Homo sapiens: one gene and its partners. The protein of the gene in region 1 purifies or fractionates together with the protein of each later gene. This does not show direct contact. Each region holds a gene or a part of one and is shown in the gene's direction. Other genes may lie near its edges.

The links.
Region 2: the proteins of ATP6V1A (region 1) and ATP5F1C fractionate together in Homo sapiens (co-fractionation; 3 studies listed by BioGRID). This does not show direct contact.
Region 3: the proteins of ATP6V1A (region 1) and CSE1L fractionate together in Homo sapiens (co-fractionation; 2 studies listed by BioGRID). This does not show direct contact.
Region 4: the proteins of ATP6V1A (region 1) and VDAC3 fractionate together in Homo sapiens (co-fractionation; 2 studies listed by BioGRID). This does not show direct contact.

The regions. Positions count from the first base shown.
Region 1 is NC_000003.12:113,777,629-113,786,013, forward strand, and holds part of ATP6V1A (V-type proton ATPase catalytic subunit A), read left to right. Parts: intron 1-1,112; 5' UTR 1,113-1,125; coding exon 1,126-1,207; intron 1,208-3,421; coding exon 3,422-3,550; intron 3,551-6,595; coding exon 6,596-6,810; intron 6,811-7,067; coding exon 7,068-7,205; intron 7,206-8,385. UniProt on the Homo sapiens protein: Catalytic subunit of the V1 complex of vacuolar(H+)-ATPase (V-ATPase), a multisubunit enzyme composed of a peripheral complex (V1) that hydrolyzes ATP and a membrane integral complex (V0) that translocates protons.
Region 2 is NC_000010.11:7,798,177-7,806,561, forward strand, and holds part of ATP5F1C (ATP synthase F(1) complex subunit gamma, mitochondrial isoform L (liver) precursor), read left to right. Parts: intron 1-813; coding exon 814-1,018; intron 1,019-1,254; exon of another isoform or gene 1,255-1,325; intron 1,326-1,595; coding exon 1,596-1,739; intron 1,740-1,850; coding exon 1,851-1,915; intron 1,916-4,093; coding exon 4,094-4,249; intron 4,250-4,581; coding exon 4,582-4,678; intron 4,679-8,385.
Region 3 is NC_000020.11:49,069,689-49,078,073, forward strand, and holds part of CSE1L (exportin-2), read left to right. Parts: intron 1-516; coding exon 517-609; intron 610-2,597; coding exon 2,598-2,765; intron 2,766-2,879; coding exon 2,880-3,009; intron 3,010-5,096; coding exon 5,097-5,162; intron 5,163-5,629; coding exon 5,630-5,832; intron 5,833-7,291; coding exon 7,292-7,376; intron 7,377-8,385. UniProt on the Homo sapiens protein: Export receptor for importin-alpha. Mediates importin-alpha re-export from the nucleus to the cytoplasm after import substrates (cargos) have been released into the nucleoplasm.
Region 4 is NC_000008.11:42,400,495-42,406,437, forward strand, and holds the end of VDAC3 (non-selective voltage-gated ion channel VDAC3), read left to right. Parts: intron 1-1,293; coding exon 1,294-1,521; intron 1,522-2,458; exon of another isoform or gene 2,459-2,596; intron 2,597-2,816; coding exon 2,817-2,967; intron 2,968-4,372; coding exon 4,373-4,430; coding exon of another isoform or gene 4,431-4,434; intron 4,435-4,876; coding exon 4,877-4,968; 3' UTR 4,969-5,443; downstream 5,444-5,943. UniProt on the Homo sapiens protein: Non-selective voltage-gated ion channel that mediates the transport of anions and cations through the mitochondrion outer membrane and plasma membrane.

The DNA.
Region 1 (8,385 bases):
TGTGGTCCCAGGTACTAGGGAGGATGAGGTGGGAGGATCTCTTGAGCCCAGGAAGTTGAGTTGGCTGTGAGCCATGATCACACCATTACACTCCTGCCAAATCGACGGAGACAGACTGTGTTAGAAAAAAAGACCTGAAGGAGGTGTAGGAGCAGATACCTTGGAGAATAACATTCTAAGCAGAGGGAACAACCTGTACAAAGGCCCTGAGGTAGAATGTGCTTGTGTTTTTGAGAGCTGACAAAGAGTTCAGTGTGTATCTGCAGCATGATTAAGTGAAAGAGTAGCTGGATAAGTCAGAGAGGTCATTGAGGATGGGCTTGTTGTGGGGGTGGATAAGTTATTGAAAAGACTTCACATTTTTTGTTATAGTTATCGATATTTCCTATGAAATACCTCACATAGAGATATAATTCAGTTGTGATAAAACCATCCAGCATCCAGGAATAGGGTACTTTTAACTACATTTTAGGAATTTTGGCTGGGTTCAGTGGCTGGCTCACGTCTGTAGTCCCAGCACTTTGGGAGGCTGAGGTGGGTGGATCACTTGAGGTCAGGAGTTTGAGACCAGCCTGGCCAACGTGGCAAAACCCTGTCTCTACTAAAAATACAAAGATTAGCCAGGTATGGTCACGTGCACCTGTAATTCCAGCTACCCTGGAGGGTGAGGCACAGGAATTGCTTGAACTCGGGAGGCAGAGGTTGCAGTGAGCAGAGATCCTTCCACTGCACTCCAGCCTGGGTGGTGGAGTTAGACTCTGTCTCAAAAAAACAAACAAACAAACAAACAAAAAACTAGTTGGGCATGGTGGTACACACCTGTAGTCATAGCTACTTGGGAGGCTGAGGCAGGAGGATCGCTAGAGTCCAGGAGTCTGAGGCTGCAGTGAGCTATGACTGTACCACCACACTCCAGCCTGGGTGACAGAGAGCCTCTTAAAAATTTTTTTTAAATTAAGAAAAGGAATTTTTTTATTCTACTTTGAAGAAGTATAATAACTCAAGAATACACCAAAGATGAGAGTGGTCTCATCTTAGTGGACTACCTATATTTTGGGTCTTTTGCTTTACGGTTTATAATTATAACTTATTTATTTATTTATTTACTATAGGTAAACTAACATTATGGATTTTTCCAAGCTACCCAAAATACTCGATGAAGATAAAGAAAGCACATTTGGTTATGTGCATGGGGTCTCAGGACCTGGTAAGTAATACATCATAATCTCAAAATAAGGATATCTAACTTTGATTAATGTCTTTTCAAAATATTTTACATAGAAATATACAACTTTCTGTTTACCTGCATAAATTCTGTTTGTCCTTAGGCGATCTCATAGTGACTATAAGACCGAAGTAGAATCTCTGTCATAAGGGCTCATCTAGCATTGATTATCTAAATTTTATAATTATTGAGGTACTACTTTGTGATATCCTGTTTATAATTATGTAAATGTTCAACCAGTGTTCAGTTTTATATGTCTTAATTTTTTGTTAAATTTGAGGTAAATAAACTATGAAGTTTATAGCTTTTAATATGTAATACCTTGCATATAGCAGGCATTCAGTAAATGTTAATTTGCTTTGAACTTTAATAATTCAAACGCTCAGAGCATTTCTCAGCAATATTAGCTTTTGCCCTTTGCATTTATGAAACTTTTTGAATGGTTATTTTAAGTGTCACATTATTAACTACCTGTGGGAAAGAAGTCTTAGGACCCAAACTTTATGTCCATTCTGCCAAAACATGGAGTGCTGCTTTTTAAATAATAAATCTTACGCCAGTATTTGTTTTGTTATTGAATACTCCCACTACACAATGTGATTCACAGTCACAGTTTCTCTAAGTAAAACCTGGTCAGTGATGTATTATCCTTAAAACCTCATGCTATATAGTCTTTTTCTTGTTCTAGTTAGAGTAGTGGTGATGACAGTTTTTTGATGTTTACGCAAATGAAGACTGTCAGTCACTGTGCCTCTTTTTTCTCCCCCAAGAACTTGGTGTTTGAGCTTGATTTCATTGGCAGGTCATTAAAAGGTTATCAGTATCTTTTGCCATGCAGAGAAATAATTGTCCTCTCAATGATCATAAGGGTCTTCAGGATGGACAGACTAAACCCAAGAACCTTTAGAGAAAAGGCAAAAGAACATCAGAGAGTTTAGGAAAAAATATTCTGTGAAACTGTGTAGTAAACTGCTCCTGGAAACAATTTTTATTTTATTTTAAAAATTTTTTTAAATTTTACTTTAAGTTCTGGGATACATGTGCAGAAAGTGTAGGTGTGTTACATAGGTATACATGTGCCATGGTGGCTTGCTGCACCTATCAACCTGTTACCTAGGTTTTAAGCCCCACGTGCGTTAGGTATTTGTCCTAATGCTCTCCCTCCCCTTGCCTCCTGCAATTTTTAATTCTTAAGTACTTAATAAGGTAATGGAACAATGGCATCCTTTTTTGGCTTATGAAATATGATTTTTAAATTTCATTATCTCTGGTATTTCAGTGCATCTTAATTCTTAAGTAGTCGGCATAGAGGTAAATATTTATAGAATGAATAAGTCTTCATTGTTTTTACACAGGTTAATTAACTCATAAAGCTTTAATAGTTTCCACTGAAGTATTACCTATAACATAGTTCTAATCAGTTGTATCAGAAGGCTAAATATTAAAAATTGGTTTATTCTTACACGTGTCTAAAAATATGGCAACCTTCCTTCCCTGCTAGAAAAGTAATTTTTGCTTACTAGACCACATGGTCCAAAATAGTAAGTTCAGTAAATGGAATTCCATTGACAATTTCTTACCCAATGGTGGTGACTGATTATAAATATCCTTACGGCCTATGAAAAAAATTTTGTAGATGTGTGTGTGAGTTTTTCTAGTAGAGCTATTATTAGTTTTTGAAAAGGGTCCATGTCCCAGAAGAGTTTTAAGAACTACTGCTATAAGTTATTAGAAAGTAAACATGTTGCTTTAGGTCTGTCTCTCAAAGGAAATGGTAACAGCACAGCGAAGTGATAATTGTGTGGCATTCTACCATACTACTAGCCAAACCATTTATTCCAATTTCTACTTTTAAAAGTTTTTTTTATTGTTCCAAAGCCTTCACTCCATGTATCATAGCAACTCTCAGAACATACCTGAATCCTACCAGGTAAGTTTGCCATGCAGAACTTGAAATGTTTGAAAAGTTTTCATGTATATTATGTAAATAAATAATCTTTGGCTTACCTCTTTATATTATACACTAAAATATATATCTATGTGAAACTACCAGTATGTTCCATAGTAGGTTTTTATCCTTCTTATGAATATATGAGAGAGGCACAATACTGGGTTTATTGGGTGTTTTAATTATTTGTGACTATTCACAGAGCACTAGAGTCTTAAGTCATCAAAATAGTCTTTTGTTCTCTTCAGTGGTTACAGCCTGTGACATGGCGGGTGCAGCCATGTATGAGCTGGTGAGAGTGGGCCACAGCGAATTGGTTGGAGAGATTATTCGATTGGAGGGTGACATGGCTACTATTCAGGTGTATGAAGAAACTTGTATCCTTTTTGGCTCAATTTCCTGCCACTTTCTATATTTCAAAATTTAAGGATTTAGGCCAGGCATAGTGCCTCACACAAAGTAATCCCAGCACTTTGGGAGGCAGGCAGGTGGATCACCTGAGGTCAGGAATTTGAGACCAGCCTGGCCAACATGGTGAAACTCCATCTCTAATAAAAATACAAAAATCAGCTGGGTATAGTGGCAGGCGCCTGTAATCCCAGCCGCTTGGGAGGCTGAGGCAGGGGAATCGCTTGCACCCTGGAGGTGGGAGGTTGCAGTGAGCAGAGATCGCACCACTGCACTCCAGCCTGGGCAACAGAGTGAGACTCCATCTCAGAAAAGAAAAAAAAAATTGAGGATTTAAGCCAAAGGTGGAAGCAGCAAAGCAGCAACAACTAATGATATTAGAAGCATGAAATGCTGGTGTTGTGAAGAGACCTGAATTATGCAGGAGTATGTTAAAGAAAGAGAGAAAAGTACTATGAATTGGTACTCTTATTTTAAGAAATTAGTATCTTCTGAACTTTCATTGCTCTTACTGCTTCAGTAATTCATGAACTTAAGGGGGACCAAGTGAATTTTTTCTTCATTGGGACGCATATTGTAGAAGAAAGCGTAAACAGAATAACAATATTGACTTGTGAGGTTAAAATTCTCTAATTATGATTTCAGTTTAAAATAGTAAGTCCACAAATAAAACGGTCACCATTCTTTTGATAGCACTGAGTGACATATTACATTTCAGTTTTATTACTAGGAAAGCTTTACTATTTGGTTATCATAATTTTGGCTTTTAAACATAGTATTTATTTTCAATTTTCTATGAAAAATAAAGGGTTAAGCCTAGTGAAGAAGAACCACTTTTTTAGTGCTTCTATATGTGTTTTACTTTGATTCTCAAAATCAGCATTAATTCTTTGAGTATTTAATCAAGATTTATTTGGTACGACGTTTTTGCCATTCTAAAACACATGCGTGCAGATAACTAGTCTCTTTATAGTACTAGGTGCCAATTTAAAACAAAATCATCTAGAAATTTTAAATAAAAATAGAAGTTTTTGTAGCTATGAAATTGTGACTAATCAGAAATATTTTTTCTATTTTTACTTTTATCTTTTAATCTGTTTAATCTTTTTCATGGCTTGAAGATTTAAAATAAATGAAAATGTAAACAGTGACAACCCTCCTTGCCTTTGTTGTCTTGTATCTAGCCGTTTATCAAAACACATACACACCTCCATGCACACATGGAACCACATTTATAGCTCCCTTTATTTTATATCCTTCTAGTTTAGTAATTACATACATGAGCAAATACAAATATTTGTATTTTTCTTTCCTTTCTCTCTCTCTCTCTCTCTATATATATATATACATGTGTATATATATACGTATATATATACACATATATATATATATACATATATATATGGTTTTTTTGTTTGTTTGTTTGCTTTTTGAGACAGAGTCTCACTCTGTCGCCCAGGCTGGAGTGCAGTAGCATGATCTCGGCTTACTGCAACCTCCGCCTCCCAGGTTTGAGCAATTCTCTGCCTCAGCCTCCCAAGTAGCTGGGATTACAGGCACGTGCCAGCATGCCCGGCTAATTTTTTGTATTTTTAGTAGAGATGGGGTTTCACCATCTTGGCCAGGCTGGTCTTGAACTCCTGACCTCACGATCCACCTGCCCCGGCCTCCCAAGATAGCATATTTTAGGTACTGTTATACACCTTGCTTTTTTTCACTTAAAAGTATGTGTATTCTAGAAGATAAATAGATATGTGATAAATATAGTAAAATGTTAAATATAGAACCTAGCTTGTAGAGACTGGGAGTCCACTGTAAAATTCTTTCAACTTTGTTGTTGTTCTGAAAATTTTCATAATCAAAATTGGAAATGAAAATACATAGTTTAGAGAGATTTCTAGAGGAATTCATGATAACTCTGGTTCTTTTTTTTACAGCCATATAACAATTCCATCATATAAATGTACCATTATTTACTTATCAATGTCTTAATGATAGAAGTTTTGGTTTCTAGTTTTTGGTTGTTATAAACAGTGCTACATTGTAAGTATAGTAAGAATTCACAGAAGTTGGATTCCTAGGTCACGACTTACCCATTTTGAATTTTGATAAATATTGCTAAATTGCTCTCAGGAAAAGTTGTACTGATTTTACTCCTGTCAACAAATGTGTAGAATAAAGTGGACTCATTATGCTTATTTATATATTTTATTCTTATTTGTATGTTTTCAAAATAACTTTATTCTTAAGATTTTAGGTTTTGTCCAAGTACTAATACCCTTATTAGGGGACTGATATTCCTCAGCAGCATATGTGAAGCAATGTATTAATGAGGGAGTTTTGCTTCTGTTTTTAGCCCTGTGGTTCCCAAACTTTGCAGAGTCATTCTGAGAAGCTGCAGCAAACTCATGTGGTGCCAGGATATTTAAAATTTTTGAGGCAAACACAGGAATGTTAGACATATTGTCAGACACCACATGAACTAGTAGCTTGAGATAATAAACAGTTTCATTATGTTGCTGTACTATATTTTTGTCAATGATGTCATATCTTTGCAAAGCTGAGTTTTTGGCAGTTGCTAAGCTACAAAAGCAGGTATCATGTGACAATCAAAATGGAACAAGTTTCCAATCTGATTGCAAGATTGGAAAATTATATAGTTCCCCAAGGGCATATACATTCATGAGAATTATGGATATTTAGGACTGAAATTAATATTATTTTTTCTTTCAACTTATGCATATATTTTTTCAAATTGCTACTCAGTTGTTAGGACGTATATACATATTAGGTTGTTTAGACATAACTGTTTAATAAATGCAAGTGTTAGATATATCTTTTGTCCTGGGACACTGAAAGAAGTTACTGAAAACACTATGAATCCTGTGAACTGAGAAAGTTTGGGAACTTCCGTTTTCACTTCTTGAGTGGCATTTCCTTGTTAAACTGTGGTATTTCCTGTTAATTGTGTCTTTAAACCTTCATAGTAGGTTTTCCTTAGCTGCTGTTTTTAGCTGGTGTGTCTGTTGGAGATCCTGTACTTCGCACTGGTAAACCCCTCTCTGTAGAGCTTGGTCCTGGCATTATGGGAGCCATTTTTGATGGTATTCAAAGACCTTTGTCGGATATCAGCAGTCAGACCCAAAGCATCTACATCCCCAGAGGAGTAAACGTGTCTGCTCTTAGCAGAGATATCAAATGGGACTTTACACCTTGCAAAAACCTACGGGTATGTCTGTGTAACCAAGAATTTCTGAAGTTATTGAAAGAATATAAAATGAATGTTTAGTAAACTACATTGTACTCTTAGTCCAAATAAAAATAGACTACAGAAGGATAGTTTAAAGTTTTTCTTAACTCTACTTCATGGGATTTTAGAACTAATGTTTTATTGATAAGTCAGGTAATTGATTTAAATTATAGCAGCAGGGGCAAGTCTACTTGACATTTATTTGCAAATTAAACAGCAAATACATTTATCTCTAGGTTGGTAGTCATATCACTGGCGGAGACATTTATGGAATTGTCAGTGAGAACTCGCTTATCAAACACAAAATCATGTTACCCCCACGAAACAGAGGAACTGTAACTTACATTGCTCCACCTGGGAATTATGATACCTCTGTAAGTATCATTTGAACTTTATCCTGCAGAGTGCCTCTATTTCTATATGATAGCTGCCCAGTTTTAGTGCCCTAAGTAATTAAAGAATTGATATTTAATACATAAGTTTTGAGTAACTCCTATAATTTTTGAAAGTTTTTGTTTGTTTATTTTTAACTTGGATTTAGGGATGAAAAAGCAGAACATAGTATTTCTTTTTAAAGAAATGTAACAGTTTTCTACCATATTAACTGATGCTACATTTATTTAAAGCCCTAGTTGTTTAGGCATAGAATAGACTTTGATTTTAATGGTGTATCAATATTCACATAGTAATTATATAATGGGACCGGGCATGTAGGCTCACGCCTGTAATCCCAACACTTTGGGAGGGCGAGATGGGCAGAGCACAAGGTCAGGAGATCGAGACCAGCCTGACCAACATGGTGAAACCCTGTCTCTACTAAAAATACAAAAATTAGCCAGGCGTGGTGGCGCACGCCTGTAATCCCAGCTAGTTGAAAGGCTGAGGCAGGAGAATCGCCTGAACCTAGGAGGCGGAGGTTGCAGTGAGCTGAGATCGTGCCATTGCACTCCAGCCTGGGTGACAGAGCGAGACTCCATCTCAAAAAAATAAAAATAATTAGTATTATTATTATATAATGGATTATTTGAATTCTCTTTTTTTCTTTTCTTTTTTTTTTTTTTTTTTTTGAGACAGGGTCTTGCTGTGTTGCCCAGACTGGAGTGCAGTGGTGCAATCATAGCTCACTGTAGCCTCAACCTGCTGGGCTCAAGCAGTTCTATCACCTCAGCCTCCCAAGTACCTGGGACCACGGGCACATGCCACCATGCCCAGTTAATTTTTTTTTTTTGAGATGGACTCTTGCTCTGTCACCAGGCTAGAGTGCAGTGGCGCGATCTCGGCTCACTGCATCCTCTGCCTCCTGGGTTCAAGCGATTCTCCTGCCTCAGCCTTTCAAGTAGCTGGGATTACAGGCCTTTACTTATATTTAACTATTTCTTTGTTGCTTAATATACTTCTTTCTTTCTTTTTTTTTTTTTTTTTGTTTTAGGAGATGGGGTGTCACTATGTTGCCTGGGGTGCTGGAACTACTGGGCTTAAGCAATCCTCCTGCCTCAGTTTTCTGAGAAGCTGGGATTACAGTCACAAGTCTGATATACTCCTTTCTAACTCAGA
Region 2 (8,385 bases), on another chromosome or scaffold:
AGCTGTCCTTTGTTTTTTTATGTGTGTGTGTGTGTTTTGTTGTTGTTTTTTGTTTGTTTTCTTTTTGTGTTTTTTTTTGAGATGGAGTCTCATTCTGTTGCCCAGGCTAGAGTGCAATGGTGCAATCTCAGCTCACTACAACCTCCCCCTCCCAGGCTCAAGCGATTCTCCTGCCTCAGCCTCCCCAGTAGCTGGGATTAACAGGCCCCCACCATCACACCTGGCTAATTTTTGTATTTTTTTTTTCTGAGTCGGAGTCTAGCTCTGTCTCCCGGGATGGAGTGCAGTGGCATAATCTCAGCTTGCTGCAAGCTCTGCCTCCCGGGTTCACGCCATTCTCCTGCCTCAGCCTCCCAAGTAGCTGGGGCTACAGGCGCCCGCCACCACGCCTGGCTAATTTTTTTGTATTTTTTAGTAGAGACGGGGTTTCACCGTGGTCTTGATATCGTGACCTTGTGATCCGCCCGCCTTGGCCTCCCAAAGTGCTGGGATTACAGACGTGAGCCACCGTGCCCAGCCAATTTTTATATTTTTAATAGAGACGGGATTTCACTACGTTGGCCAGGCCGGTCTCAAACTCCTGACCTCAGGTGATCCGCCCACCTCGGCCTCCCAAAGTGCTGGGATTACAGGCGTGAGCCACTGTGCCCGGCCTCAGCTTACAGCTGTCCTAAGAACACCTGCTTACACTAGGCAGTTGCCAGCTAAATTTAAATGCGTATTTTGGAAATAACCAACTGCTTTGTAAATTAGAGATTTATTGTATTTAGTGTATTGCATATAAAAAAATTACTGCTTTTGTTTGTTTTTAAGCTCTGTATGAAAAAGCTGATATCAAGGGGCCTGAAGACAAGAAGAAACACCTCCTTATTGGTGTGTCCTCAGATCGAGGACTGTGTGGTGCTATTCATTCCTCCATTGCTAAACAGATGAAAAGCGAGGTTGCTACACTAACAGCAGCTGGGAAAGAAGTTATGCTTGTTGGAATTGGTGACAAAATCAGAGGCATACTTTATAGGTAATTTAAATATATATTGTTTATTTTCATAAAGATGTAAGCACGAATAAATCTTCTCTCAAAAGTTTTGACAAACTCTCAAAACCTTCATCAATAACAAGGTATATTCTTCAGGGCCTTTTTTGGTATATTCACAAGGGGGTGTTTGTTTCCTTTTTCTTTTTTCCAGGATATATTGGAACATTTCTGTTTTCCTTCCCCTGTTTTCTACCTTTGCTTCTTCATCCGGATCATAAGTTGAATGCCATGTGAATATCAAAAGCTATCAGCATTAAGCCAAATGAGGCATCTGAGGAGCTGTTACAGCCTGGAAATGTTAGCAATAGTTCATTAGGATTAGAAGGAGAGGAATAAAGGGGAAAAGAATATAAAACAGACCTCATTTTTAGTTCTTAGTTCTTTGCAGGTGCTGAAGGAAAGGAATGATGATAGTGTGTGGAACAACTCAGGAAATCACCACCACCCATACCCCAAAAGACCTGATCCATGGTGACAATGTTTTCTCCTGCCTGTCCCCTGTGCTCTTTCAGCAGAAATCTTATTAAACTAGCTATGTGAGCTCTTGCTTTTCTTATAGGACTCATTCTGACCAGTTTCTGGTGGCATTCAAAGAAGTGGGAAGAAAGCCCCCCACTTTTGGAGATGCGTCAGTCATTGCCCTTGAATTACTAAATTCTGGATATGAATTTGATGAAGGCTCCATCATCTTTAATAAATTCAGGCAAGACAGATTTAGAAATCAAAGCTTTTTTATGTTCATGCTTTTGTTCATATTTTGAAATAACAGTTTAAAAATTATTTTGAGATTTACATTTGTTTTTGTCAATTCTAGGTCTGTCATCTCCTATAAGACAGAAGAAAAGCCCATCTTTTCCCTTAATACCGTTGCAAGTGCTGGTAAGTAGTTTTTCTATGATACATATTTTTTGGCATATAGAATGGAGAGATTTGTACACTAAGGCAGACAGTGTCAAGATATCTGGTGGTAGCTATAGCAAATGATTTGGGGCTGTTTCTTTTTTAGATGGAATCTTGCTGCCTCCCAGGCTGGAGTGCAGTGGCACCATCTCGGCTCACTGCAAGTTCCGCCTCCTGGGTTCACACCATTCTCCTGCCTCAGCCTCCCTAGTACCTGGGACTACAGGCACCCGCCACCAAGCCTGGCTAATTTTTTGTATTTTTAGTAGAGACGGGGTTTCACCATGTTAGCCAGGATGGTCTCAATCTCCTGACCTCGTGATCCACCCGCCTCGGCCTCCCAAAGTGCTGGGATTACAGGCATGAGCCCAGCCTTTTATTTTTTTATTTTTTATTTTTTGAGACGGAGTCTCACTGTGTCACCCAGGCTGAAGTGCAATGGCATGATCTCGGCTCACTGCAACCTTCGCCTCCCGGGTTCACGCCGTTCTCCTGCCTCAGCCTCCCAAGTAGCTGGGATTACAGGTGCACGCCACCACGCCTGGCTAATTTTTGTATTTTTAGTAGAGACAGCATTTCACCGTGTTCGCCAGGCTGGTCTTGAACTCCTGCCCTCAAGTGATCCACCTGCCTTGGCCTTCCAAAGTGCTGGGATTACAGGCATGAGCCACTGCACCCGGCCGATCTGGGGCTGTTTCTGAGAAGTGCCATCTCTTGACTTCCATGATACTTAATTCAGTCATTGTTTGATAACTCCTGCTCTATTCTGTCATTAATTGAAAAGTCAGTATCTATTGAGGTTCATCATTAGATTTTTTTGTCCTCAAGGATTGAAGAGCGTAGCTAGAAACTGGCTTTGCAAGTTATGTTTGGGACCTCTAACTACAATAAAACAGAAGCTCTAGAATAGAGAGTTGAACAGTGTTCACAGCTAATTTACATTGACTGACTCAATTCTCTTGTTTTATTGTTGGAATAAAGTCATCATTGATCATTGAAGCATCCTGGAATAATATTCTGGAACTGATTTTAGTTTTCTAAGGCTTTTTTCCCTTGTATATACCATCTATTTTCTAATACTTCATTTATTTTCAAGTATGTACTTTACACGTTAATGTTTCTGAAATTGAGATGGCTCTACCAGCCAATGGAACATCATTTATAATTGAGTACATTTTTTTCTCTCTTAATGAGAAATAAAGTAGGTGTTACAACCAGTACCATTTAATGAAATATAGTATTTTGATAATATATAGTACTGTGTCACCACTTGACCCCAATGAATGAATTTTGAAATGTACTTCTAAATTTCTACAACATTAAAACTACGATTCATACCAATTTCTAGTTCTCCCACTCTTTCATGTGCTTTGAAAGGTTTTCCCTCTCTCATTTTCCAGATTGATACATTCAGATTTCTTCAGTAATCAAATGACTAAGTTGGAATTACTGCACAGGTTGAGTATCCCTTGTGTGAATGCTTAGGACCAGAAATGTTTGGGATTTCAGAATATTTTCATATTTATAATGCAGTATCTTGGGGACAGGACCTGAGTCTGTACACCCTATACACATAGCCTGAAGGCAATTTTATGCAATATTTTAAAGAATTTTCTGCATGAAACAAAGTTTCAAATGCACCCCATCACACAAGGTCAGGTGTGGAATTTTCCACTTGTGGCATCACGTCAGTGCTCAAAATGTTTCAGATTTTGGAGCACTTCAGATTTTGGACTTTGGGATTAGGGATGCTCAACCTGTATTACACTAAATTCGTTTCAATTCATTATTATTCTTTTTTACTGGAAAAAGCATTGAGTGCTTGCTGGCTTTGTAACAGGCACATGCTAATGCTGTCCAGAGGGCTTCATAACCACGAGATATAGTGCAGTTATTTCAAATGTTGACCTAATTTTTCTAAAGTTACACATGTGGAGTAGAATATCAAATGGTTTATTTACACATTATATTTTGCTAAAAATATGCTATCATCTGTAGTGTGGAAATAGATGACATTATTAGAACAGATTCATTTACCTTATCTAGCATTAATTTCTGCTCTGTAATTATAAAGGAGTTTTACACTGAAAAGCTGTTTTTGATGAATTACTATTCCTTCCATATAACTTGAAAGAAACTCATCACTTGTTTTAACAGACAGCATGAGTATCTATGACGATATTGATGCTGACGTGCTGCAAAATTACCAAGAATACAATCTGGCCAACATCATCTACTACTCTCTGAAGGAGTCCACCACTAGTGAGCAGAGTGCCAGGATGACAGCCATGGACAATGCCAGCAAGAATGCTTGTAAGTACACAGTATGGACAGTGCCAGCAGGAGTGCTTGTGAGCACACAGTGAATCTCAGCTGAGAGGAGTCCGTGGCCGAGAGTAGCATCAACAACATTAACATGATATTCCTGTACCTGTAAGAAAGTATATCTTGATAGGTAGTTGATTTGCAAGTACTGTGAAAAGGTATCCTATGGAAGATGTAAAAATATCTTCATAACATTATTTGAGAGGCCAATTTTGGTATCCAAAAATTTCTTACTTTTAAATTAAGCAACAGAAGTTAGTTAACAAGTTATTCTACTCTAGTTTCAGATTTTTTATGTAGTGTTTTTGTTTTGTTTGTAGCTGAGATGATTGACAAATTGACATTGACATTCAACCGTACCCGCCAAGCTGTCATCACAAAAGAGTTGATTGAAATTATCTCTGGTGCTGCAGCTCTGTGAGTAATTGTAGATTGTCGCCTTCAGAGAATTTTTTTTCCTCTTGCTGTGTCTGCTTGTTTGGATGCTTAAAAGTTTTTCGTTTTTTTCTTTTGAAGTTGAAACTCATTGCTGAAACTTGCATCCTAACTCTTAGGCTATAAAGATGTGGTAAAAATGGGACCTCTTTGCTTTATTTTTATTGTTTCAGCTGGAAACACTCGGGCTTAGTTTTCGGTTTTCTAAAGGATTAGGAATGGGATGTGGATAATTCAGTATCATTTATGAAATCTTTTTTTGGAATTTAAACAATTGTAAGCCAAGCTTTCTGAGTTACAGGGCTAGTTTCAGATTTGGTTTTACATAAATCTATAAACCATTGCATGTTGGGAAGGTCCAGGAATTTTTTAATCATTATGTTTTTTAATCATTATGTTTTCTATATCAGTACCAAAAGATAGTATAGCCATCCCTCAGTATCTGCAGTGGATTGGTTCCAGTACTCACTCTCACCTCCCCCAGGATACCAAAATCTGAAGATCCTCAAGTCCCTGAAATAAAATAGCACAGTACTACATATAAAAAATGCACATCCTCTCGTATACTTTTAATCATCTCTAGTTATAATGCTATGTAAATTGTTGTTGTATTGGTTTTTGTTTTTATTATTTTATCATTATTTTTGTCTTTTTTCCAAATATTTTACATCGGCTGTTGGTTGAATCCATGGATACTGAGGGCCAACTATATACTGCTTTCCTCAAGAAAATTTCTTAGTTGTTGAAAAACTTTAATGTTTATGAAAAAAAGGTTAAGATAATGGGAATTTTATTCAAAAAGTTATTAAGTTGAATACCCACTATGTGCACAGTACAGTGCTAGACACAGTGTTAAGGATGTGATTCTCTCTTTTAAGGCACTTATATTCTAATAGGATAAGAAACATACAAGTAATTGTGATTAGATAAAACGTGTAGTAAGTTCTTTTTGACTCGTTCCTTCTTACCTCCTGCTAATCAGTTACCATGCTCTTTAAGTTTTACCTTCTAACTATCTCTTGAATCTTCCCCCTTCTTTATGCCCACTTAATGCAGATCCTTGTCATTTCTCTCCTGGGTTCAAAAAGGTAATTATTTGAGTGCCCCTTAAGTGTCAGGCCCTGTGCTAGACACTGAGGATACAGTGGTAACAGTATTTGCCTTCAGAGAGCTCAGTCTTCACAGTAAAGGCAGACACTAAATAAGAAGTCACAGCAGAACAGAGGTTGCTAAACTGTGGCCTGGAGCTAAGAATGGGTTCTGCATTTTTAAAGGGATATAAGAAAAAGGAGAGTGATAGCGTGTGACCCACAGAGTGCAGAATACTTGCTGTGTGGCCCTTCACCGAAAAAATTTGCCTATTCTTGTGACAGTGTTATGAGGAAAATAACAAAATCCATTCTCTGTTATACACTCATTCTGCAGAAACACTCGATGTATGTGATCCTATATTTTCTGGTCACCAGCACTCTTCCCAGTCCAGTCTCTTACCATTACCATTTCTCACGTCCTTGAACCTCAGCCACCTTGATCTACTTCCAGATCTACAGATTCGTCACTCTTTCTCGCGGCCAGGGAGTGGCATGTGCTGCAGCCTGAAAAGCCACTATTTCTTCCCTTGCTCCCTTGATTCTTCATCTGACTGCCTCCTGTGTATCCTTCCTTACTCAGCTGGGGGAATCCTTTCTTCCAGAAAACACTCCTTCCTTCAGTCTGAGTGAGGCAGCCTTCTGCAGCATCCTGTCTTCCATTTAGCTTAGCTCTTACAGCCTTGTATGAGGAATTGGCTTTTTATTTGTCTGTGTGCTCCTCGAGGCTAGGATGGGACCATATCTTATTCACTTTTGTGTCCCCATTGCCTGGTACATACCTCCTTCGTGAATGTTGAATGAATGAATGAAATGCCATATGTATTCAGAACTGGAAGTTCAGAAGAGGGACAAATAACATTTTATTGGGTGTATGAAAATGTGGGTCCATGGTTTTAAGAGTCAGGGAAAAGTTCATCACTATTTAAAGTGTTCCTTAAGTGTTACTTTTCAAGGGCAGAAACTGGGCAGAATGCCAGAGAGACACAACTAGAACTTTTTGAGCCAACAGAGACCTTTGTGTAAGTTGTTAGTTGGATCCATCAGCCTCGCTATCCTAAGCATTCTTCTCTTATTTTACTTTCTAAGCACAGCTGTGTTAGGACTAACCCATTCACAGCCTGGTCACCAATGTTCTATCAGCATCACAGAATACTGTCTCATGGTGTCTAGCTTGATGAACTTGGTTAGGATACTCTCTCTGTTACTCAGCTTTGTCATCTGTAACATGGGGACTAATACAAGGACTAAAACCTTCTATTAGCCATTATCCTTCTTGCCATCTACCCCATGTTAAAGCCAGGCTGATTTGTTCTTGGATCTTAAGTGTGACAAAGCCTGCGGGAAGGAACCACATTCTGAAGGTTTGTGGGCTGTGTGAGATCCAGAGAACCCAAGGGGGTTTTTTTGCTCTTGACAAACGAATGTTAGGTATGACCTATGATGATACAACTTCTGCAAAATTGAGGACCAGCCTATTTCTTCATTAGAAATGCAGGAAACCTGGCCGGGCGCAGGGGCTGACGCCTGTAATCTCAGCACTTTGGGAGGCAGAGGTGGGCGGATCACAAGGTCAGGAGATTGAGACCATCCTGGCTAACTCGGTGAAACCCCGTCTCTACTAAAAATACAAAAAATTAGCTGGGCGTGGTGGTGGGCGCCTGTAGTCCCAGCTACTATGGAGGCTGAGGCAGGAGAATGGCATGAACCTGGGAGGCGGAGCTTGCAGTGAGCCGAGATTGCGCCACTGCACTCCAGCCTGGGCAAAAGAGCAAGACTCCTTCTCAAAAAAAAAAAAAAAAAAAAAAAGAAATGCAGGAAACCTATTTAAAAGTAACAGAAACAGCTGGGTGCATTGGCTCATGCTTGTAATCCCAGCATTTTGGGAGACCGAAGCGAGTGGATTGCTTGAGCCCAGGAGTTCAAGACAAGCCTGAGCAACATAGCAAGACCCCATCTCTACAAAAATGAAAAAATTAGCCAGGCCTGGTGGCATGTGCCTGTTGTCCTAGCTACTCAGGAAATTGAGGCAGGAGGATTGCTTGAGCCCAGGAGTTTTAGGCTGCGGTGAGCTATGATCGTGCCACTGCACAAAACCAAGAATTTAGAAAAAGGAATCCACATAATTGGAAATTGAGTATTAAGTTTTTGCTTCCTAGGAAGGTAGTCTAAATCCTTATACAAAAACTTAGCTATGCAGTGCCAAGGTTGGATTGCTTGTGAATGGGTTTGCATGCTCTGTAACCTATCAGTTATTCTGAATCAAGACTTGAATATTTAAACATACTTGGAAAAGAAAAAGATCAAAAAACAAAATAAACATATTTGGCTATTTAGTAATATAATTAAGAACATGAGTAAACCATAGTATTCGAGGTCCAAGTATTAGTTGCCAGCCTAAAAACTAAATATGGCCAGGCGCAGTGGCTCATGCCTGTAATCCCAGCACTTTGGGAGGCCGAGGCGGGTGGATCACCTGAGGTCAGGAGTTCCAGACCAGCCTGGCCAACATGGCAAAACCCCGTCTCTACTAAAAAAGTACAAAAATTAGCTGGGCGTGGTGGCGGGCACCTGTAATCCCAGCTACTCGGGAGGCTGAGG
Region 3 (8,385 bases), on another chromosome or scaffold:
ATTCTGAGAAGTCAGGTTTAATGAAGCTCTTGAGAACTTGTCTGGCAGGGAGACCAAGGAAAGAGGCATAATCTACCCTCAGGGGACTTGTACCCTCATTAAGAAGGCAGTACTATGCCACAAGAAATCAGTAACTAAAAGACAATTAGTTTATCTGCCTTGGTGGTCATCTTACAATAAACGTAGTTCAGAAAAGAAAGGGGATGTATTAGTATGCACTGAGCTTGAGCTTTGTAAGGAAAGTCTTCATATAGTCTTAGCTGAACCTTGAAGGAAGATTTAGATTAGGATGAGAACTAGAGGTGGCATCATTTATAGCATACAAACAGAGGCAGAAGTCAGAATGCTTTATGCAGCTGCCAGATGTAGCTGGAGCAGAGAATTCTTGTCAGAATAGGTAATGCTCAGGCTGTGAAGCCTGTGTATAAAATGTTTTGTCCACGTGGTAAGGGAACTTATAAAAGTGGTGTTCTTAATATTTTAATCAAAAGTTTCAAGTCAGTGTTTATTCTGTAGGATCTCCCTGAATTTTTTGAAGATAATATGGAAACTTGGATGAATAATTTTCATACTCTCTTAACATTGGATAATAAGCTTTTACAAACTGATGTAAGTATTTAAAATGTTGCCTGAGTGGTCTTTTTCTTTCATTAAGAGTTATTTGGCTACAGTCTGGAAACCTATTTACTCTTGCATTGTTAAAAGATAAAATTTCAATACTGTAATAATATTTGATTCTATTTGATGTTACATGTTTGGTGTGTGTAGTATACAGAATTACTCTTATCATGGGCTTGGCTTAAGCCATAGTGTACATATAAGGCTGTTTCATTACATTATTGAAAGTAGGTCTTTAAAGTAGTGACATTATGGATATTTCATGAAATAAAATTATTTTTCATTGAAGATACTAAGAAAACTTAAAACTCTATAATGGTAGCCCCTTTTTAAAAATCATCTGGCTAGGCATGGTGGTTCACACCTGTAATCCCAGCACTTTGGGCGGCCAAGGTGGGGAGGATCCCTTGAGCCCAGGAGTTCAAGACCAGCCTTGGCAATGTAAGGAGACCCCCATCACTACAAAAAATAAAAATAAAATTAGCCAGATGTGTTGGCTCATGCTAATGGTCACAGCTACTCAGAAGGCTTAGTTGTGAGGATCCCTTGACCTTGAGCCCAGGAGGGCAAGGCTGCAATGAGCTGTGACCATGCCACTGCACTCCAGCCTGGGAGACAGAGGGAGACCTCGTCTCAGAAAAAGAAAAAATTATCCACAGCTCGAGAAAGAGAGAAAATGGTAAAAGATTGTAATTTGTAAATATTTCTGATATGGGTTTTATATTGTGTACTTTTAAACATATAACACTTATTCTGTGCTACTCATTTGTTAATATATTTATGACCTTCTTTCCGAAGAGACAAAAGACAAAATATTAAAAATATTTCAATACCAAATAAACTAAAAATTAGAATTGGTGATTCAAATCAGGTTTTAAGAGTGGGGTACAGAAAGAAATTGTTACTATCGTTGTACAACAGATTTTGTCTCAGAGTTTGACTATATTAATAGGAACTTTAAAAGATGTAGCTCTCATAAAATAATTATTTCAGTCCAATGGGAGGGAAAAACACTCCTTCAGAAAACAAAACTTTTCTTCACACAAAAGTCACAAGGAAATTTTTTGGATAGAATTCTTACAAGGACCTTTTTGCCCAGTTAACCATGTGCTACCTTGTGCTACTATTTATGCCTTAAGTAATCAGTGTGAGGGAGTTTTGGTTTTGGCTTTGGTTTTTGTTCTTACTCTGATGTCTTCCCTTGTCTCACTCTGTCACCAAGGCTGGAGTGCAGTGGCATGATCATGACTTACTGCAGCTTCGACCTCCCTGGGCTCAAGTGATCCTCCCACCTCAGCCTCCCAAGTAGCAGGGACTATGGGTATGCACCACCATGCCCAGCTGATTTTTTTTATTTTGGGGGCTTGCTGTGTTGCCCAGGCTAGACTCAAAACTCCTGGGCTTGGCCCGTCGCAGTGGCCCACGCCTATAATCCCAGCACTTTGGGAGGCCGAGGCCATCCTGGCTAACACGGTGAAACCCCGTCTCTACTAAAAAAAAAAAATACAAAAATTAGCCGGGCGTGATGGCGGGTGCCTGTAGTCCCAGCTACTTGGGAGGCTGAGGCAGGAGAATGACGTGAACCCAGGAGGCGGAGCTTGCAGTGAGCTGAGATCGCGCCACTGCACTCCAGCCTGGGCAACAGAGGGAGACTGCGTCTCAAAAAAAAAAAAAAAAAACCACTCCTGGCCTCAGGCCATCCTCCAGCCTCAGCCTCCCAGAGGGTTGGGATTACCGGCGTGAGCCACTACACTCAGCCAGAATATACTGTTTGAATCTAATACGGAAATATTTTGTAATTCAGCAACTTATTTGAAAGACTTGGTGAAAAGATTGGTGGTGGCATAGCTGTAGTTTACAATAACTGATTTGATTTGGATTTAATTGATAAAGAGTCTAGTTCAGGAATTTCAGTTACTCCTCTTACTTATGTTAGCATTAGAGTTGTATGTTGGAGTTTTTGTTTTCTTTTATGTGAGGATGAAGAGGAAGCCGGCTTATTGGAGCTCTTAAAATCCCAGATTTGTGATAATGCCGCACTCTATGCACAAAAGTACGATGAAGAATTCCAGCGATACCTGCCTCGTTTTGTTACAGCCATCTGGAATTTACTAGTTACAACGGGTCAAGAGGTTAAATATGATTTGGTAAGATGATGGTGGAGACAAATAATTAAAAGACATTCTCTCCCTATCTCCTCCAAGAAATAAGCTGTTGAGTTTTGCTTTTAAAAATATTCTTGTTTTTGTGTTTTGTTCCAGTTGGTAAGTAATGCAATTCAATTTCTGGCTTCAGTTTGTGAGAGACCTCATTATAAGAATCTATTTGAGGACCAGAACACGCTGACAAGTATCTGTGAAAAGGTTATTGTGCCTAACATGGAATTTAGAGGTAATTATGGCAAAAGTATATTAGTATAAATCTACTAAGTCTGTGTTTGTTTTTTGTAACATATTCAGTCTAATTCATTTATTACTGGATAAAACTTGTATGTCATTTATTTCTTATTTTCTAAACCAAGACAGAAAATGTAGTATCTGTAATGAGTTTTGTTGTGCCCTGTGAGGGTTTTCTCATGGAAATATTAAATAAGACTTCAAAAATTCCTTTACACTAAGAAGATAAACTATCTGGAATTTCTATTTAGAGAAAGAATTTGATTTTGTTTCATTTATTATTTCAATGAATTTTTAGCTGGCTTTATTTATTTATATATTTATTTGAGACAGGGGTCTCGCTCTGTCACCCAGGCTGGAGTGCAGTGATGCAATCTTGGCTCACTGCAACCTTAGCCTCCCAGGCTCAAGTGATCCTCCTACCTCAGTCTTCTGAGTAGCTGGGACCACAGGCACACATCACCATGCCTGGCTAATTTCTTGTATTTTTGGTAGAGACAGGGTTTCACCATGTTGTTCAGGGTAGTCTCAAACTCTTGAGCTCAAGCAGTCCACCCGCTTTAGCCTCCCAAAGTGCTGGGATTGCATTTCTGAGCCACCTCGCCCAGAAATAGCTGTTTTTAAACAATCGACTTGAGAATAGAAATGATAACTTTATAAATACAAGGTTGAAGCCCACTTAGTTTGTGCTTAAGGTTAAACTATAGTGCTAAGAGCCTATATTTATAAAATGTATGTCCTTGTTCTAACAGTTGTGAAGAACAAGTAATGAAGGTGGGAGGGATTGTGTTTTTTGTTTTGGGGACAGGGTCTCACTGTGTCACCCAGGCTGGAGTGCAGTAGCACAGTTATGGCTTACTGCAACCTCAACTTCCCAGGCTCAAGTCATTGTCCCACCCTGGCCTCCTGAGTAGCTGGGACTACAGACGTGCACCACCATGCTCAGCTAGTTTTTTATTTTTTATAAAGATGGGGGTCTTCCTATGTTGCACAGGCTGGTCTCAAACTCCTAGCTTCAAACAATCCTTCTGCCTCAGCCTCTCAAAGTGCTGGGATTACAGGCATGAGCCACCATGCCAGGCCAAGATTTTGTTTTATATCAAAATAGTTATTAGATCAGTGGTTTTCAAATTACATCTGGAACAAAATAAGGAAATTAAGGACAATATAGCGTGAGATTTTATTTCCTGTTGTGTTTTCATAAAAATATGTTTAAAGGATAAATCTTCTGGCTGGGTGTGGTGGCCCATACCTTTAATCCCAACACTTTGGGAGGCTGAGGTGGGAGGAACACTTGAGCCCAGGAGTTAAAGACCAGCCTGGCCAAAATGGCAAAACCTTATCTCTACAATAAATAAATTAGTTGGGTATGGTGGCATGGGCCTGTGGTCCCAGGTACTCAAGCAGCTTAGGTGGGAGTTTTGCTTGAGCTCAGGAGGTGGAGGCTGCAGTGAGACATGATCATACAACTGCAGTGTGTGTGTGTGTGTGTGTGTGTGTGTGTGTGTGTGTGTGTAGACTTTTTTTTTTTTTTAATTTATATGATAAAAATAGAGATGAGATCTCGCTGTGTTGACCAGGCTGGTCTCAAACTCCTGGGCTCAAGCGATCCTCCCATTTCAGCCTCCCAAAGTGCTAGGTTACACGCGTGAGCCACCATGCCGGCCATTTCTGACATTGTCCACTCTACTTATTTGTTGTTGAAATGACTTTAATGAAATAATAGTGATTAAAATTAGGTTGTTGGTATTTTAATGTTCTTATTTGGTGAAATTAAAAGTTAGCATTCTGATACTGATCCCTAACATTTTTGACAGTTGCAGGTATAATCCAATTCTGGGGAAACTGTCACATTAGAACAAGTGAGCCTATCTCATAGTTGTGTGAATTACCTAATACCTCACCTTTCAGGGTAGCATTTGCTGCTCTAGATAATGATTAAGAGTATATGAAGTAGTCATCTGATGGGAACGAATTCTTTGCTGTAGAACAAGGCAGTTTTACATACTCTTCTGCATTCTCAGCTGTAAAGTACAGTGACGTCTTTTGGAGTGTTATCTGAAATATCATCTCTCCTTGTAGCTGCTGATGAAGAAGCATTTGAAGATAATTCTGAGGAGTACATAAGGAGAGATTTGGAAGGATCTGGTGTGTATCTTGGTTTTTTAGTTACTAGTCTCTTAGCAAGCCAGTTTTAAGGTGGTTCTCTTTCTAGTAAATGGGAGAAGTGGGATTGAGAATAAGAGTGTTTTTTCAGCGGGCTTTCATTGAGAACTGTTGTCTTTCTTCAACTTGTCTTAAAAAGCTCTTATATGACCTGAATGAAAATATCAAAAGTTGAATCATTTGTCTGTTCTTACATAGTATTTATCAAAATTCTGTGATTCTGTGACCTCTTTAGTTTCATTTTGATTTTGTATTTCTTGGGGGCGGGAATGTTTTTTTCATTGTTTGTGTTGCTGATAGCTATTGGGTGGCCCTTTGTTTTTCGTTCTTTTTTTTCCGTTTTACAATCGTAGCCAAATTATTCCAGGCAATTTGTTTTCTTATAAATTGGATCAGCTTGTTGGTGGTTGTTTTTTTTCCCCATAATATATTTTCTTTTCATTTCATAGATATTGATACTAGACGCAGGGCTGCTTGTGATCTGGTACGAGGATTATGCAAGTTTTTTGAGGGACCTGTGACAGGAATCTTCTCTGGTTATGTTAATTCCATGCTGCAGGAATACGCAAAAAATCCATCTGTCAACTGGAAACACAAAGATGCAGCCATCTACCTAGTGACATCTTTGGCATCAAAAGCCCAAACACAGAAGGTAAATATTTTTAATGTGGTTTTGTTTCTAAAACAGACATCAGTGACACCCACACAAGTCAAAAAGAAATAACGTCTCTGATAATAGAGCTTACTCTGCCAGATAACCTATTCTGATTAAGATTTATATAATCTCTGAAGATGGCTTTATGTTGATGTATTGAGCACTTAAGTTTCTTATAGACCAGAAAATTGATAGATGGCCACACTTGTTACCTTAGCTGAGACCCGCTGTATCAAATATGCTTAACTTAAACTTAGCTGTTCTTTAATTGAGGAAAGTTTCTTTATTGTCTATTAGTATAGTCTTATTTTACATTTTTATATTTTTGAGATGGAGTCTCACTTTGTCACCAGGCTGGAGTGCAATGGCGTGATCTCAGCTCACTGCAACCTCCACCTCCCGAGTTCGAGCGACTCTCCTGCCTCAGCGTCCCAAGTAACTGGGATTACAAGTGTGCACTACCACACCTGGCTAATTTTTGTATTTTTAGTAGAGACAAGGTTTCACCATATTGGTCAGGATGGTCTCAAATTCCTGACCTCGTGTGATCCTCACACCTCAGCCTCCCAGAGTGCTGGGATACAGGTGTGAGTCACCGTGCCTAGACAGTATAGTCTTATTTTATATTTTATACATAAGCAGGTTGTGTTTTGTTGTTGTTGTTTTGTTTTGTTTTGTTTTGAGACGGAGTTTCGCTCTTGTTGCCCAGGCTGGAGTGCAATGGCACGATCTTGGCTCACCGCAACCTCCGTTTGCCGGGTTCAAGTGATTCTCCTGCCTCAGCCTCCCGAGTAGCTGGGATTACAGGCATGCGCCACCACCCTGGCTAATTTTGTATTTGTAGTAGAGATGGGGTTTCTCCATGTTGGTCAGGCTGTTCTTGAACTCCTGACCTCAGGTGATCCACCTGCCTTGGCCTCCCAAAGTGCTGGGATTACAAGCATGAGCCACCATGCCTAGCCTAAGCAGTTCATGTTTTGAAGTGTCCCTCTCTCTCTTTTTTTTTTTTTTTTTTTTTTTTTTTGAGACGTTGTCTTGCTCTGTCATCCAGGCTGGAATGCAATGGCAACATCTCAGATTACTGCAACCTCTGCCTCCCGGGTTCAAGCAATTCTCATGCCTCAGCCTCCCGAGTAGCTAGAATTACAGGTGCATGCAACTACACCTGGCTAATTTTTTGTGTTTTTAGTAGAGACGGGGTTTTGCCATGTTGGCCAGGCTAGTCTTGAACTCCTGACTTCAAGTGATCTACCCGCCTCGGCCTCCCAAAGTGCTGGGATTACAGCCGTGAGCTCCTGTACACAGCCAGTACAGTCTCATTTTATACATAAGCAATTTGTATTTTGAAGTGTTCATCTCCATTTTAACATGGTTTTCTAAAATTGCCTGAATTTCTAATGTGATAGATATATACAGGTATTTTGTTATTTTACTATGTTATGAATTTGCTTTTCAGCATGGAATTACACAAGCAAATGAACTTGTAAACCTAACTGAGTTCTTTGTGAATCACATCCTCCCTGATTTAAAATCAGCTAATGGTGAGTTGTGAAATTCTTGCTTTTTTTACAGCTTGCCACACTATACCTGAATTCAAAAAACAGCTTCCTATCCTTGTTCCCTTTTGTTCTTTTTTTTTTTTTTTTTTTCTTTTGAGATGGTGTCTTACTCTGTTACCCAGGCTGGAGTGCAGTGGCACAGTCTCTGCTCACTGCAACTCCTGCCTCCTGGGTTCAAGCGATTCTCCTGCCTCAGCTTCCCAAGCAGCTGGGACTACAGGCACGTACCACCATGCCCGGCTAATTTTTGTATTTTTAGTAGAGACGGGGTTTCCCCATGTTGGCCAGGCTGGTCTCAAACTCCTGACCTCAGGTGATCCACCTGCGTCGGCCTGCCAAAGTGCTGGGATTGCAGGCGTGAGCCTCCATGCCCTGCCTATTATTTCTTTTATTGAATAAAATCTCAAATGGTTTCCCCAGATCTTGTCCATGTGAAATTAATTATTGATAAAGAAAATATTGCTTGATTAGGAGGAAAATAGGAATAAATACAACTAAACTGTAACTCAGCTTTGCTACCTAGTGTATAAATAAGGATTATACATTGGCTTCCTTTTCTTTTTTATTTGAAAGACGAATTCTTAAAAATTGGAGTACATTTCAAAGTACTAGAAAATTGATAAATATTAAGGATATCTTTTGGCCGGGTGCGGTGGCTCACACCTGTAATCCCAGCACTTTGGGAGACTGAGGCGGGAGGATCGTGAGGTCAAGAGATTGAGACCAGCCTGGTCAAAATGGTGAAACCCCGTCTCTACTAAGAATACAAAAACTAGCCGGGCGTGGTGGCGTGTGCCTGTAATCCCAGCTATTTGGGAGGCTGAGGCAGGAGAATCGCTTGAATCCAGGAGGCAGGGGTTGCAGTGAGCCGAGATCGTGCCACTGCACTCTAGCCTGGGATACAGAGCGAGACTCTGTCTCAAAAAAAAAAATTAAGGATAGTTTCTGATGTTTATGAATGTATTGATCTAGATCCAGATATATTCCTTTT
Region 4 (5,943 bases), on another chromosome or scaffold:
CAATTTCCTCGTGAAAAAAAGGGGGATTGTGTCATTTCCTATCTGCCTAATGTGGGTCCATGCTATCTGAAGGACGGAGGTTGCTAGATGAATGCAAAGTGACATTTGTCTCAGCCGTAACAACAGGTGTGTTCTTTTTGCCACACACTTCAGTTATCTTTAGGACAAATATTCTTTTCTTTTTTTTTTTTTTTTTTTTTTTTGAGATGGAGTCTTGCTGGAGTATAGTGGCACTATCTCAGCTCACTGCAAACTCTGCCTCCTGGGTTCAAGCAATTCTCCTGCCTCAGCCTCCCAAATAGCTGGGACTACAGGCATGCACCACCACGCCCAGCTAATTTTTGTATTTTTAGTAGAGACGGAGTTTTACCACGTTGGGCAGGATGGTCTCTGTCTTGACCTCGTGTTCCGCCTGGCTCGGCCTCCCAAAATGCTGGGCTTACAGGCATGAGCCACTGTGCCCGGCCAGGACAAATATTCCTACAAGAGGCTTGATTGGAATAGGGTTATTAAGAACTAATTTCATTTTTTCAGTATTGTCCTTCAAAAAAGCATGCTTCTCTCCATGATAGGTTAATAATGTATATTGGGGATTAATTCTTTGTGGCATTTGGCATTTGGAAACATTTAAAGAGATTTGGCTTCTTGTACGTCTGTATACATACACCTTCAGATTATTAATTTGGCACTGAAATATCTTATTCATTCTTTTTTTTTCTTTTGAGACGAGTCTCGCTCTGTCGCCAGGCTGGAGTACAGTGGCATGATCTTGGCTCACTGCAACCTCTGCCTCCCAGGTTCAAGTGATTCTCCTGCCTCAGCCTCCCAAGTAGCTGGGACTACAGGCGTGTGCCACCACGCCCAGCTAATTTTTGTATTTTTAGTAGAAACGGGGTTTCACCATGTTGGCCAGGATGGTCTCAATCTCCTGGCCTCGTCATCCGCCCACCTTGGCCTCCCAAAGTGCTGGGATTACAGGTGTGAGCCACCACACCCAGCCTCTTATTCATTCTTATACTTTTGTTCATGCTTTTATGAAATAAATCATGAAGTATCCTATCATTTGAACTTATAATGAGTAATAGATGATAGTAGTCTATACATGTCTAATCCTAACAAAATTATATTTGTAGAACTAGGTCATTTGAAATGTTTTTACTATATATGTGGCATGTACCAAAATAATATTTACATTGGGAGATGAGAGAGAGGATCTTACTCTAAAAATTCCTAGACAGTAGTAAGAACTCATGTTGTTTTCATCATTTGCTTTTGTTTGTTTGTTTATTGCAGAAAGAAGAGTGGGAAATTGAAGGCCTCCTATAAACGGGATTGTTTTAGTGTTGGCAGTAATGTTGATATAGATTTTTCTGGACCAACCATCTATGGCTGGGCTGTGTTGGCCTTCGAAGGGTGGCTTGCTGGCTATCAGATGAGTTTTGACACAGCCAAATCCAAACTGTCACAGAATAATTTCGCCCTGGGTTACAAGGCTGCGGACTTCCAGCTGCACACACATGTGTGAGTGTTTATAATTTATTCCTTAGTATCAGTGCAGTTGCCCAAAATATTGTAGCCATTAGCATGCTGAGAAGTGATGGTACTCAGATTTAGCATGCCTTGGTGAATATCCATCCTTGCGGTGCTATCCTCATAGCAAAACCTTGCCAGGAGGCTGGTGCACGTGGTGTGCAGGCTGTGCTGCTGGTGGTCACTGGCCCCTCAGCCTGCACCCCAAACTTGAGGAAGCTCCAGCCTCTGTAGAAGAACCACTGGGATAGAGGGAGCCCAGAGCATGGCTTACCTCATGGTAAGATGACCCTTTGGAGATGTTACTGCTTCCTCTGCTGCCCTCTCATCTTGACAGTATCTGGAAGCAGGTCTGTTTTGGTCACCAACAACCACCACCAAATTGATCTGAGCATCCTGGGACATCCCGGTAATTCTGTGGAGGTTTCAGGTACTGGTATTCTCGGTTGGAACCCAGGTACCGCTAATGCATTCAGAAGTAACAGGTGCTCTGAAAGAGTCCTGGGATTCAGTTATGTAGGCTGCACCATGTTGGTGGGATGAATCAGAACTTTTACGTAGTATTTTATGTTGAGCCTACTGGACACTGCTACTATACCAGGAAGAAAAAGCAAAGGGCAAACTATGTGTTTTTAAACTGTTGCAGATTCCTCTCTGCTAGATGCTCTAATTTACTTATGATGGCTAAAACAAAGGCAAGCAGTGGTATAGACAGTTACTGAAATTGATGAAACAGTATTATCAGGAAAACCATGTGAAAACCCAAGGACTCACCTCTGGCATGCTTGGAAGCAATAACTAAGGTGGTTTTCTGGAGCAGTGCACCCTAGGTATCGTAGGAGGGTGCTTTCTAACTGTAGGATTGTGTTTTAAAGGAAATCCAGAATTGGTTTTATTCCTATACCTCTACCTTTTTATTTTTTTGCAGAATCTTTATTGAACTCTACTTTGAAGTTTCTAAGTTCTATGAACTTCTCAGAGACCTATAGATTATACTTACCCGAGGTGTCTGCCTTTGTGCTTAATTGAATTGTCTTAAGAAACTCACATCATGTGGAGGAGCCAAGTAAATGGATCAAGTGTTAACGTTTTAATTAAGCAGTCATTACTGGCATAGCTGGATTTAGTTCTGTGTTTTGTTTAGTAGTCATTTATGCTAGAAATTTGCTGAAATCTATAGTTACAAAATGGGATCCTTGTTTAGATAGTCTTAGAATTTGTTTTCATACCATAATAACAATGGTACAAACTAGATATTTATGACGTTTTCTTATCTATGAAAACAGGAACGATGGCACTGAATTTGGAGGTTCTATCTACCAGAAGGTGAATGAGAAGATTGAAACATCCATAAACCTTGCTTGGACAGCTGGGAGTAACAACACCCGTTTTGGCATTGCTGCTAAGTACATGCTGGATTGTAGAACTTCTCTCTCTGTAAGAATGTGCTGCCAGATTGGATCTGCTCTTATGTTTGTGTCTAAGTTTTCAGAGAATGTTGTGATATGAGTGTAGTTTGCTTGTTCTTTATTAATTTTAATAAGCCAGCTCATTGTGTAGTGAAAGGAATATAATGTGGCCAGGCTCACGCCTGTATTCCCAGCACTTTGGGAGGCCAAGGTGCATGAATCACCTGAGGTCAGGAGTTCAAGACCAGCCTAGCCAACAAGGTGAAACCCTGTCTTTACTAAAAATACAAAAATTAGGTGGGCGTGGTAGGTGACGCCTGTAGTCCCAGCTACTAGGGAGGCTGAGGCAGGAGAATTGCTTGAACCCTGCAGATGGAGAGGTTGCAGTGAGCCAAGATCACACCATTGCACTCCAGCCTGGGTGACAGAGCGAGAGCCTATCTCAAAAAAAAAAAAAAAAAAAATTATGCTTGACGTCAGGAAATAGGGGTTCTTCTAGTCCTAGCTCTTCCTGTATATCTGTTGTCTGACCTTGTCATTTTATCACTTTGGCCTCAGAATTTTCTTATTTGGAAATTCATGGGATTAGATGACTATTTCTGTTGCTATAGTAACTCTTACTAAAAATAACACTGAGCTGTTAAATTTCATGTACTGTGCTAAGGGCTTTATGTATATTATGTCATTTAACGCTCACAACCACTCCATGTGGCGATTAGTGTTATCCTCATCCCTGTTTTACAGATGAGAAAACTGAGCCTTAGAAAGGTCAGCTAACTTGCCTAAGGTCACATAGTAACTGGCAGTGCCACAATTGAACCTAGGTCTGTTTTTCTGTCACCCAAGTTCATGCCGTAACCACTGTGAGAGATTGTCAGCTGGTATCTCAGAGAATTCAGGGTGTTTGGTTGTGTAGTGTTTAAAAATTTTGCTTGAGGCCTTGAAGCATGCATTCTCAGGGTACGTCCTACCCCTACAAGTCCTACTGACTTCTTAATCAGTAATTCCGGCTGGGCACGGTGGGTCACGCCTGTAATCCCAGCACTTTGGGAGGCTGAGGCAGGGGATCACCTGAGGTCAGGAGTTTGAGACCAGCCTGGCCAACATGGTGAAACCCCGTCTCTACTAAAAATACAAAATTAGCCGGGCATGGGGGCGCATGCCTGTAATCCCAGCTACTTGGGAGGCTGAGGCAGGAGAATGGCTTGGACCCGGGAAGCGGAGGTTGCAGTGAGCCGAGATCGTGCCATCGCACTGCAGCCTGGGTGACAAGAACAAAACTTCATCTCAAAAAAAAAAAAAAAAAAAATCAGTAATTCTAGATTGGCCCTAGGGTGCTTTTAGCATTGGAAACCTAATGCACAAAGTGATGGTTATATTGGACTGATCTGTAATTCACTGTTTTCTGTTATTATTCTATCTCTTAATCTTAGGCTAAAGTAAATAATGCCAGCCTGATTGGACTGGGTTATACTCAGACCCTTCGACCAGGTAAGTAAAGGAATTAGTAACAGAGGGGTTGAGGTGGAAGGTGATAGAGAAAACAATGAAAATAACCTGCAGAACAACCTGTAGTCACTGTAAGTTGATTTGGACCATTTTGTAACATTTGGTTGTTCAGACAGAAAACAATACAGATCAAATACTTTTGCATTAAAAAAGTATGTATTTCTGACTATAATGTGGTCACTTTGGCCTTTGAGTTTGGTTGATCACTCATTGCCCTTAACCCTGAACTTCAGAGAAAGTTTGCCATGATCATGCTTTCCTCATTACACATCAGATAGTTATAAATAACCGATTGAGTAATAGCTGTTTGCTTATAGCTCGTATACCCAGCTACAATCCACACCATTGATTCCATCTGTTGTTTCTAGAAAGTTCAGATCTAATTGTAATACTTGTTTCAAGTGATTGTGGTGTTTTCTTCTTCCTAGGAGTCAAATTGACTTTATCAGCTTTAATCGATGGGAAGAACTTCAGTGCAGGAGGTCACAAGGTTGGCTTGGGATTTGAACTGGAAGCTTAATGTGGTTTGAGGAAAGCATCAGATTTGTCCCTGGAAGTGAAGAGAAATGAACCCACTATGTTTTGGCCTTAAAATTCTTCTGTGAAATTTCAAAAGTGTGAACTTTTTATTCTTCCAAAGAATTGTAATCCTCCCCACACTGAAGTCTAGGGGTTGCGAATCCCTCCTGAGGGAGATGCTTGAAGGCATGCCTGGAAGTTGTCATGTTTGTGCCACGTTTCAGTTCAGTTCTGAAGTGTTATTAAATGTGTTCCTCAGCGACAGTGTAGCGTCATGTTAGAGGAGACGATCTGACCCACCAGTTTGTACATCACGTCCTGCATGTCCCACACCATTTTTTCATGACCTTGTAATATACTGGTCTCTGTGCTATAGTGGAATCTTTGGTTTTGCATCATAGTAAAATAAAATAAACCCATCACATTTGGAACATAACTGCTCATGTGACTTGCTGGTGATGGTTTTCTTACCTTGATGTGATTTGTTTTAAGAAGCACTTTCACAGGCGAGATTTGTGTCTAAAGTATCAGGGCTGCCGTCTGTCCCTTTCACTTCACTGACCCCTGCTCTTCTCTTGCTCTCACAGGGCAGGCTGAGGAAGGAAGCAGTGAACATGGTTGTGCTGGGGAGTGGCACATCTGTTGTGCTTGTGGTGTGACAGGGTTGCTTCACCCCGGGAGTTGTGTGCAGCTGCTGAGAAAGTGTGGATGTGAGCGGGTGAAAAGACAGTTGAGGGACGAGTGCATTTGGGGAAGCATGGGGAGGAGAGACGGTGGGAGGAGGCCAGAGCTGGGTGGACACTTCTGGGACTCCTCCTGGGCTTCAGAAACATGATTTTTGATTACTAGTATAGAAAAATGATAACCAAGGAATGAAGTACCAGTTTAGAGAAGAAATGAGCAGACTATAAAATCCTCAGGGCTCACTGGTAAATCATCTTCCTAAAAGTAGAACTCCTTTTGAAAATCTTTTTTT